Regions from separate parts of the Homo sapiens genome. Here regions 1 and 3 are each reported to be linked to region 2. Evidence: microRNA targets listed by miRTarBase, many of them from high-throughput screens and not tested one by one. Region 2 holds a microRNA gene; each other region holds the end of a gene's coding sequence.
What was found. Region 2 holds the annotated microRNA hsa-miR-6798-5p (CCAGGGGGAUGGGCGAGCUUGGG, at 2,201-2,223, opposite strand). A microRNA usually pairs through its seed, bases 2 to 8, with sites in the 3' UTR of a target mRNA and lowers its output. Matches are read on the target gene's strand: a 7mer-m8 pairs with bases 2 to 8, a 7mer-A1 pairs with bases 2 to 7 and ends in A, and an 8mer does both.

Region 1 (3,245 bases), not on the chromosome of region 2:
CAGAGGTGGGAGAATTATTTGAGCCCAGGAGGCAGAGGTTGCAATGAGCTGAGATTGCACCACTGCACTCCAGCCTGAGTGACAAAACTGTCTCAAAACAAACAAACAAACAAACAAAACGGAGGGAAGTAAGGAGCTACTTTCCAGGAAAGAGGGGATGCTTGGAAATGGCCCAGCCATACAACCAGATTTTTCTTTTATACCACCCACATGCTATAGATTGTCTGAGTGCAAGTGAGGAGAAATACTATTAAACACAAAGAAAGGATTTGGATCTGAAAGGGAAACACAAATGTACAACGTGAGGATTTTAACTTCTCTACACCACACAAGTTTATCCTACTACATTTTTATTAAAGTAACAAAAAGGTGTACATTTGTCCATAAGCTGTACATTCTTCCATATAAAAACACTATCATACAATTAGTAACCTTTGTCTTTTCTGTCAGAATAGCTTACAAACATACTACTACTATTTATTTTTACTTAATAGGAGAGACAGGCCTGCTCAACAGTCCAGCTCAGGGGTTTTGTTGTTTTTAAAGTGAACATCATAAAGAAGAGAAGAGAGACAAGATTAAGCATGAGACCATGAGGCTGCTTCTAAAAAGGCAGGGACCTGTTTGCAGACAAGATGCAAGAACACAGCCTGCAGTGATTCACAGCTTTGTTTCAACCCACAAACCAGAAAATTAGCTCTTGGGTCTGTGGGCCCAAAGTGAACTTTAAAGCAATAAAGACTGGAAGCAGGTCTGGGAAGGCAATACAAAATGTGGAGAGTTGAAAAGGAGGCAGAGCTGGCAGGAATGGGTAGGGAGAGTGTTTGGTAAATAGCACCTTTGAGTCAAAATTGAGCAGTTTAGAAATCCAGGAAAGGGGACTGGCTGTGGGGAGGAGAACCTGGGGGTAGAGGAAGTGGGGTGAAGATTCCTCACTAAGGGGCAACAGCAGGAGGGTGGCCATCCTGGCCAAATGCCCTAGCCCTGTCCTTCTTAAGGTGATTCGGTTTGGGAAACTCGAGGTCTTTTGAGGACCCCTCATCAATGTCACTGAGAAATTGAAGGAAGGGAGTTTCTTCCCAGTGTAGCTTTCCACTTTTCTCCAACCCACAACAGTATATATTGCACAAGTCTACGACAAATTTGGATTGTACTGAGACAGACAGCAACCTTTCCCACAGGTGCTCTGAGCACCAGGGAGAAAAAACAGTGCCCAAGGTTTGGCTTTTATTTAGTGTCGGCCCTACAAGAATACCAAGTAGTCTTGCAGAACATGGGGCACTCTCCCATTCAGCCAAGGAATACATGCAAGGCTGACTAGCCAGCCATCATCCCAAGGAGAGCAGGAGAGATGGTTCCCTAAGCCCACCAGGGCATCAGGAGGTTCTGATAGCCAGTTTTCCTCCAGACCCTCCTGGGACCCAGGGGGCATATTGCACAGTGACTGAGAACTCTTGTCCTAGAAAATACGGTAGCTCTATGACCCGACCAGAAGGGAAGGGGGAGGGGAGGGTTAGAGGAGAGTTGTGCTTTTGAAAAGAAGGCAGTAATAAAGGACCTGGAGTTCCCTGTAGCTTTTGAGCCACCTCTCAAAGGGATCATGGCAGCAGCATCAAGACTTTCATGTGGTTCCAAAAGGAAGAGTTTTGGCCAAAAAACATCCCCAGTGGATACTCTTTGGGTCCCAAAATTTCATTGCAAATCACCCCCAAATTATTTGCCACACATACACACAAAGCAGCACTAGCAAAGCAAAGGTTTTGTGCAGAGTTCCCTTCCATCCTAACCCCAATAACCTCCAGTTCCCTCCTCCCCCCCCTCAGAAAACCCAAAGCTTTAGATTCCTGGCTGGAAAGCAACATCTACAGGCCCCTGAGGGTAGAATTAGAAACAAGTCATGATTTCAAGAAAAGCAGCTTAGGACAGTAGGAATCAGGAGAGGCCTTTTCACTCTCTGCCCAGGACCTCATTAGAAAAATAAAAGAAAAGATAACATAGTATTGTTTAAGTCCAGGCATGAATGCCCCTGAGTAATAGAGGAGCCAGGGATGCAGGTGTCTGGCTGGGGGAGACAGAGAGCTCTGAACTTGGCCTCTCTTCCTCCCCCAGGGCAAATCCCGACCTCTCTGTTCACAGTTGCTAACCTTGCTTGCTCCCTCTCACATCTTCCTGGGGTGCTAGCCAAACGTCTCCCACTTCTCCTTGGCTAGGTCTACCCCCTAACAGCTCCCCCTCCTATAGGCAGACACTGGCTCACAGACTCAAGCACGCAACAGTTCTCTCCAAAGGCACCTGGGGAGGCCACTTCCAAGCAGCTCCCTTGAAGGATTTTTTTTCTTAAAAAAAACTTTTGGTTTCTTTTCCTCCTTTCTTAAAAAAAAATAATATATATAAATAGCTCTTCATTTAAAAATACAGTTCCCCAGGTTGAGGTATGTGGTGGCCTGTTGTCACGGCAGCATGAGCACGGCGGCGCCCAGGGCGGGGGCGGAAGGGCCTAGCTGGAGACTGCCATCACGTAGTTCTTGGAGGGGCTGCTCCGGCCCAGCAGCACTTGGTTCTTGCAGGTGAGGAGCCCACAGGAGGCGGCCAGTGGGGCCTCCTCGTACAAGACGCAGATGGAGCCGTCCTCCCCAATGCGGTAGGACACCTCATAGGGGTCCACCCACAGGGTCAGCTCGCTGGGCAGCAGCTGGTGCAGCTGGGGCTGGCTGAGTCCGATCTGGCTGGCCACCCTGCTGATGATGGGGTCCATCTTGTGGTTGATGCGAATGCAGCGGTAGCCGGAGCCCTTGGACGGCTTTTCGGGAAACCAGTGGTGTTTGTAGTGCTCTGTGGAGACAGGACCAGGGGCAGATGCCCTGGTTAGAGCAGCTAGGCCATGGATACTACCATAGGGCGGGGTGGAGGGTCAAGGGACAGGAGGAGAGAAAGGGGCCCTTTAAGTAAGGGAGGTGGATTCCTCTGAGTTCTAGGACCCTCTTTCCACTTAGCAGAGAAAATTTTATGGAAGCTGGAAAGATCCACTTTCCTGCTTCCAGGACAAGTGTATGTGAGAGAGTGTGTGTGTGTGTGTGTGTGTGTGTGACTGAGTGTGTGTGTGTGAGAGAGAGAGTGTGTGTGTGTGTGTGTGTGCGTGTTGGGAGGGGATTCTAGAGCTCTAGGGTACTCTCTAGTGGCCAGTGTATTGCTTTTGGCACACCCCCAAAGCAAGGGAAGGGTGTGACTGGGACTGGCATGTCCAG
Region 2 (3,245 bases):
AGGTACAGCACTGAGCCCAAGCAGTGCCGGGCAATGGAATGGGGGTGCAAGGTTGGGGTGCAGCCTGTGGATCACAGCCTATGGGGGCTGCCTGCCCTCCACATCCCCCTGCTTCCTGCGGGCCAAAATGTGGCGAGGTGGAGAAGACAGCCAGCGGGCATGGTGGCAGGTGCCCGTAATCCCAGCTACACAGGGTGCTGGCAACACCTGGGAGACGAGGTTCCCAGGCTTCAGCACAGCACAGTACCCTCTGTGTCACAGGAATCTGTCCCCGGCATCCTCAGGCCAAACACAACATTAAGAGTTCCCCGTGCACAGGGTGCTGGCAACACCTGGGAGATGAGGTTCCCAGGCTTCAGCAGAGCACGGTACCCTCTGTGTCATGGGAATCTGTCCCTGGCATCCTTAGGCCAAACACAACGCTAAGAGTTCTGTTAATGGAGTTGCTGGGTCGAAGTGACTGAACAATCGTAGTTTATGTTATGTCTAACAGATGTCACTGTGCTTCCCTCAAGACTAGAAAACATCCCACAGCACTCCTGTGAGTTTCCTGCAGCACCCTGGGGTGCCTCGGCACGCAGTTTGAAGACTGCAGCCTTGGGGGCTAAAGGAGCAGCAAGACAGAAAGGCAGCAAGAACACAGTCTCTGGGCTTCCTCGGGAAGCAGAGCTGCCTCCCACCCGCCTTTTGTAAGCAAAGAGCGCACACTGCAGTCACGCGTCCCTCCCTGACCCGGTGTCAACACAGGCTCCCATTGACCCTCTGACCACACCCACTGCCCAGAGCATCCTGTTTTCCCCAGAGGCCCCTGTAGCCGGCTCACCGCGTGATGCCACGGTTGGTGGCCATGATCAGGACAGGCGCCATGTCACTCTCCAGGGCCCGGTTGAGGAAGGAGAAGCTCTCGATGTCCAGCATGTGGACCTCGTCGATGAACAGCACCTTGGATTGGGGTGTGTGTGAGAGTCACCACCCGCGTCCCCACTTCCCCGGCCCACCTCCACCCCACCACCCGCCCCGGCCATGTCCTGGGTCCTCACTCCAGGGATGATCTCCGCCTTGCCCTCCTCGCGCCACTCAGCCACCTTGGCATTGATCTGCTCACGGACTTCTGACTTGATCTCCCCTGTGTCACCTATGGGAGGCACAGGTTGCATCAGGGAAGCCAGAGAGGAGGCGGGTTCCAGGGCCAGAGTGTGGCTAAGACAGAGAAGGATGATGCCAGGGATGGAGGAAGGGGAGCAAAGCAAGGAGGGATGAGGAGCCTGAAACATCCCCAAAGAGGAGGAACAGAGGCAGAGAACACAGGAGGGGAGAGGGCAGGGCCACACCCATCACAGCACCAGCAGGGGTGGGGACGGAGCGGACTTGCAGGTGGAGAACAGAGGCAGCCACGGGCCGGAGTTACAGGAAACAGCGTGGAGCAGGTGGGCCACACTCGGAGCTCAGGAACAGAGGGAGCCCGAGGGAGGCTGCTAGGCCTGGGGCAGGGCAGGGCAGGGCAGGGCAGGAGGGGCCTCACCTGAGAAGAGCGCCAGGAAGCCCTGGGTGCGAGAGTTGATGACGTCGATCTCGTGCAGGGACACGGTGTGCACCACCTCCTTGCGTTTCTGGAGCTCCCCATCTGGGCACTGCACGAACTTGGTCTATGGGGCGGGGGTGGGGGAAGAACGGCGGAGACAGGGCAGGGAAGGGCATGAAGGGGGCCCCTAAAGCCCTCTGTCTGGGGGAGACTGGAGCTCCAGGAAATGGAGCTGGGAGGCTAAATGGGGTCATCTGGAAACCCCAGGCCCAGGAGGTAGTCAGGACTAGGGACATTCCAGAGCGCTGAGGGTCACGGGGGCTCCCGGAGGACCTTAGAAGCCACAGGCCACATGTGGCCATGCGAAGCTATAGTGCCAGGCTGAGGGGCCCTGCTGTCCTAGGGTTACAGGGAAGACCCAGGAGTACCAGGACAAACAGTCAGGGTAACAGGAAGATCCAGACCCCATGGGTCAAGGGGGTGATGGAGGAGATGAAAACACCCCAGTGCTGGGGGCGAGGGGATCCCGGGAGTCCCGGCCGCACCTGGGAGCCCATAGCGTCGTAGTCGCGGGCGCGTGTGAAGGAGCGGCCCAGCTTGGAGATCTTGCCCGTCGCCTTGTCGATGGTGATCACGTCCCTACAGGGGGATGGGGGGTAGGGTAAGGAAAGGAATGGGCCCAAGCTCGCCCATCCCCCTGGCTGCCTGGCATGGCCCCTGACTGCTCACCCGGCCTGGACCTTGTCCTTGGTCAGGGACTCAATCATCTTGGTGCCCAGGTCGTAGATGGTCTCCATCTCTGTGGTCTTGAGGGTCAGTTTGCCCACCTTGGAGCCCTGAGAGTGGGGACAAGCCAGGGATGGGGCTCAGAGAGGGCCCTGATGTTGCCCCAGTGCCCCCAGTGTTGATAAGCTTCTGGCTCTGCTCTGGCCTCTGCTTCCACAGCTTCAAAATGGGCACAACACAAGGAAGCTCTCCAGGGAAGACATACGGTGCGCTCACCAGCCTGACGCGGTGATGGCTCCGCGGCTGAACATGTATGTCCCAACGGACCATACTGGACACTTGCAATGTGTACAGCTTTCTGTATGTCAATTAAAACTCAATAAAGTTCTTTTTTTTTTTGAGACGGAGTCTTGCTCTGTCGCCCACGCTGGAGTGTAGTAGCATGATCTCGGCTCACTGCAAGCTCTGCCTCCCGGGTTCACGCCATTCTCCTGCCTCAGCCTCCCGAGTAGCTGGGACTACAGGCGCCCGCCACCACGCATGGCTAATTTTTGTATTTTTAGTAGAGATGGGGTTTCACTGTGATAGCCAGGATGGTCTCGATCTCCTGACCTTGTGATCTGCCCACCTCGGCCTCCCAAAGTGCTGGGATTACAGGAGTGAGCTACTGCGCCTGGTGAATAAAGCTCTTTTTTTTTTTTTTTTTTTTTTTTTTTTTTTTTTTTGAGATAGAGTCTTGCTCTGTCGCCCAGGCTGGAGTGCAGTGGTGTGATCTCAGCTCACTCCAACCTCCATCTCCCGGGTTCAAGTAGTTCTCCTGCCTCAGCCTCCCAAGTAGCTGGGATTACAGATGTGTGCCACCATACCCAGCTAATTGTTTTGTGTTTTTATTATTTATTTATTTTTGAGATGGAGTTTCGCTCTTGTTGCCCAGGCTGGAGTGCAATGGTGTGATCTCGGCTTACTGCAACTTCTGCCTCCCAGATTCAAGCGATTC
Region 3 (3,233 bases), not on the chromosome of region 2:
AATTGGGTGGGTCCTCTAGCGACGAGGTTGCAGGACCATACAAACAGCAGGAGTCCAGAGCCGGCATCTTAAACAGATGTGGCAGGTGTCTGGCAGGCCTGAGGAGACAGCCACAGCACTGGTGGTACAGCTATCATGGCAGCCAGGGGCTTTGCAAAAAAACACTACGGGCCAGCTGGGTTTGAGAAGGTTAAGCTGCCTCCTCTTGGGAGGACTGCAAAGAAAACTGTCCAGTGGGCACATTCCAGTGTGAATGGGGCGGTAGAGGTCATGATGAGTCAAGAGGTTGAAGGGGAAGCAAAGCTTTCTTTTCAGAGGTTCTAGAGGGCCCAGTGAAAGGATAAGCTGGGTCAGCAGAGGGGACAGCTTGAGCCTTGAGCAGGTGTGACTACTGAGGTCACTAGTGATTCTGCCCTTCCTAGCCATGTGGCCTCAGGCAAGTCACTGCCCACCCCCCAGCATCAGCCTAAAATCAGAAAATATCTACAGCCATGGGCTGGTACGCCTCGTGGGCCTGAGAGAGCAGGAGTTGCTCAGAAAGAACAGGAGCTGGATCTGAACAGATGGGGCAGGGCAGGGGGCAGGGATGCACCTGTGAAGACAGAAGGTGGGTGATCCGGCCACCCCCTTCCTCTCCTCACTAGTGACCTGGATGAGGAGAAGGGGCCTCAGCAGAGGAAGCACGGGCAGCAGCCCTTACCTGAAGCCCATCAGCCTGTCAGCATTCTCACCAGCCCTGAGCCCCACAGACCACCTGAGACATCCTCCGCCACTAAAGGAGCCCCCACTCCAGCTTCAGAACCCTCAGTCCCTCTCTCACCTCCCTCTCTTCCTGATCCTTCCCACCCACCCCCCAAATAAACCAAAAGTGGACACAAGTGTGAATCTTAAATTATTATTATTTCTTCCTGTCGCTTACACCCGAGGTGGGGGAGTTGGGGTGGGGGGAAGGGAATAGGAGGGGGGGAGTGCCTCTCCCCCTAAGGCACTGACTGGGAAAGCCGAAAGTAGGGAGAAGGGAGGCCACATTGTCCCCACTTTCTGGGGCTGGGCCCCAGGTCTCCCCAGCCCTGGGCTCCCCCCATCACCTGAAATGCTAAGATGAGGCCCAGGACAACCCGATCTCCCCGCCACCCCAATATATTACATCATCACTTTTTAAATAGATAACAGGGACTGGTCCCGCTACCCCCTCCCTGTGACCCCTCCCCACTGTTAGGGGTACCTGGGCAGCTGTGCAAATGGGCATGGGGGTGCATGGAAGGGAGGAAGAGCACCGGGCCCCTGAACCTGCCCCTTTTAAGGAGGGGGAGGAGCCGTCAGGCCAGGAAGGGGAAATAGTGCAAGGCAGAGCCCAGGCTGCAAAAGGGGTCCAGCACCCAGCGAGGAAGGGGGGGTGTCCCCCACCCCCAGCAGAATTGGGTAGTTAAAAATCTGAAACTAGATTTCAACAAGACCAACAGAAGAGGCTATGTACAGAATGGGGGTGGATTCAATCCTAAGAGCAGAGTGGGGATTATTCTCCCCTGCCTGACAGGAAGCCCGGCTGGCAAGGATCTGGGAAGGGGATCACTTTCCCACAGGTCCGCAGCCCCTTCCCCTGCGGCCAAGCGAGAAGTTCTGTGCCCACTGCCTTGGCAAGGGGGCGCCGCTCACCAGCTGGGGTGGATGAGGAGCGTGAAGACAGCTCGCTCCAGTGGCCGCGGGGGGCGCTCGCCCACTCAGAGCATGGCCGCCAGATGGCGCCGGCTCGCCCGCTCTCCACAAGGCTCTTCCAACCCCTTACCCTGTCCCACACCCTTCGCTGCGCCAGCCCGGGGGCGGCGTGAGTCAGGGGCGGCAGCGGTGGCGGCGGCTCCGGCTCGCACCTGGGCGGGGAGGAGATGGGGAGGAGGAGAAGAGGGTAGGACGCCGCCCGGCCCGCCCTGCCCTCTGGCCCCGGGGAGGGAGCGGCGGGAACAAGACATTCCCTGCCCAGGGCCGTGGGGAGGGAGGGCTAGGGAGGGGAGTGGAACGGAGCGGCTCCCCTAGCTGGGCGGGGCCCCTCTACTGCCCCCAGGGGCAGGCGAGCCAATCAGGCCACCCCGCCCCCTTCTCCACGACCCCATGACTCAGCGCCGGGAGCAGGGCGGAGGGGGACTGGGATGGCTCCTTCCTTACAGGCCCAGTCCCCCAGTCTTTCAAGCTTCCACCTGGCTTTCCCCCACCTACCCTTCCTTTGCCGGCCCCCTTTGCATAATTCACTGCCAGGAAAAAGGAACAGAAACCAGGAAGGAGGGGTCTCGAAAGGGAGGGGCAGTCCTTCACCCCCTTACACAGCCAAAACCCCCAAGGGGCATAGGGGCGGGGCAAGGCTTTGGTCCCAAGCCCCCACCCCCTAGAAACCCGCATAGCCGAAGTGGGACCCACAAATTAGAAATACATTATTGCTTCTACTCCCCAGGAGCAGCTGGGGACAGGGACCCCACTTTTACAATACAGCTGTAAATATATACACAATATATGTATCACTCCTTGGGGGATCACCCCAATTTGGGGAGCCTCTGCCCCAATACCTTCTTAGCTTGGAATTGGAATGAGGGCTCTGGGAGGAAGGGCTGATGCTGATGCCAGCAAGGCTCCGTGCCCCAGACCCCTGCTGTGTCTGTCCTGCGTGCTCCCACTGCTTGGCATGGGTGTCCCCGGCCTTGTGCTGCTTCAGTCTGGCCCTCGTCCCTCTTTAAGAGGACTCCATGGCACCTTCAGCCTGGGGTGTGGTGGGTGCCCCTTCCTCCTCATCGTCATCAGGGGGCCCTGGGGTAGAGACCGGGGGCCCAGTGGGGGCTGACTGCTCCCAGAATCGAGCTAGAGAGAGGCGGAAGGTGTCCAGGTGGCCATTGGAGAGGTCGAGGCCAGCGGGGGATGCAGCAGCGGTAGAGGGTGGTGGGTAGTGGGGTGGTGCATCGTCCTTGCGGCGCCGTCGGGTGCGCACCTCCAGGCAGTTCTGGCCTTTGAGGTGGCGCTGCAGGTGGTCCTCCTTGGCGAAAGCCTTGTGGCACAGGTGGCACTCATAGGGCCGGTCCCCTGTGTGCAGGTGCATGTGGTTCTTGAGGTCGTAGCTGTGCAGGAAGCGGGCTGGGCAGTGCGGGCATGAGTAGGGGCGCTCTCCCGTGTGCTTCCGCATGTGGATCTTCAGCTTGTCGTTCCTGGCACAGGCAGGGGTGAGGGGCAGGGAGGTGTTCAGGATGGGATCC

Region 1: the mRNA of BTG2 is a reported target of hsa-miR-6798-5p. Seed matches in the 3' UTR shown: 7mer-m8 at 1,423-1,429 and 7mer-A1 at 523-529.
Region 3: the mRNA of ZBTB7B is a reported target of hsa-miR-6798-5p. Seed matches in the 3' UTR shown: 7mer-A1 at 1,831-1,837.

Annotation. Positions count from the first base shown.
Region 1 is chr1:203,306,691-203,309,935 of GRCh38, reverse strand. It overlaps BTG2 (BTG anti-proliferation factor 2), which reads right to left. Exons shown (of 2, transcript NM_006763.3): 2 at 334-2,832. The coding sequence ends at 2,498. Among named protein-coding and RNA genes, the nearest start is that of BTG2, 2.8 kb to the right of the region's middle. RefSeq lists enhancers at 1,255-2,197, 2,542-2,781, 2,198-3,140.
Region 2 is chr19:49,008,889-49,012,133 of GRCh38, reverse strand. It overlaps MIR6798 (microRNA 6798), which reads right to left and starts at 2,228; the gene lies at 2,162-2,228. RUVBL2 (RuvB like AAA ATPase 2) reads right to left here. Exons shown (of 15, transcript NM_006666.3): 7 at 2,252-2,358; 8 at 2,068-2,161; 9 at 1,523-1,646; 10 at 1,041-1,135; 11 at 824-942. RefSeq lists a silencer at 196-370 and an enhancer at 2,193-2,694.
Region 3 is chr1:155,016,172-155,019,404 of GRCh38, reverse strand. It overlaps ZBTB7B (zinc finger and BTB domain containing 7B), which reads right to left. Exons shown (of 3, transcript NM_001256455.2): 3 at 882-3,185. The coding sequence ends at 2,720. DCST2 (DC-STAMP domain containing 2) reads left to right here. Exons shown (of 15, transcript NM_144622.3): 15 at 645-878. The coding sequence ends at 861. Among named protein-coding and RNA genes, the nearest start is that of ZBTB7B, 15 kb to the right of the region's middle. RefSeq lists a cis regulatory region at 2,058, a silencer at 1,620-2,089 and an enhancer at 1,986-2,130.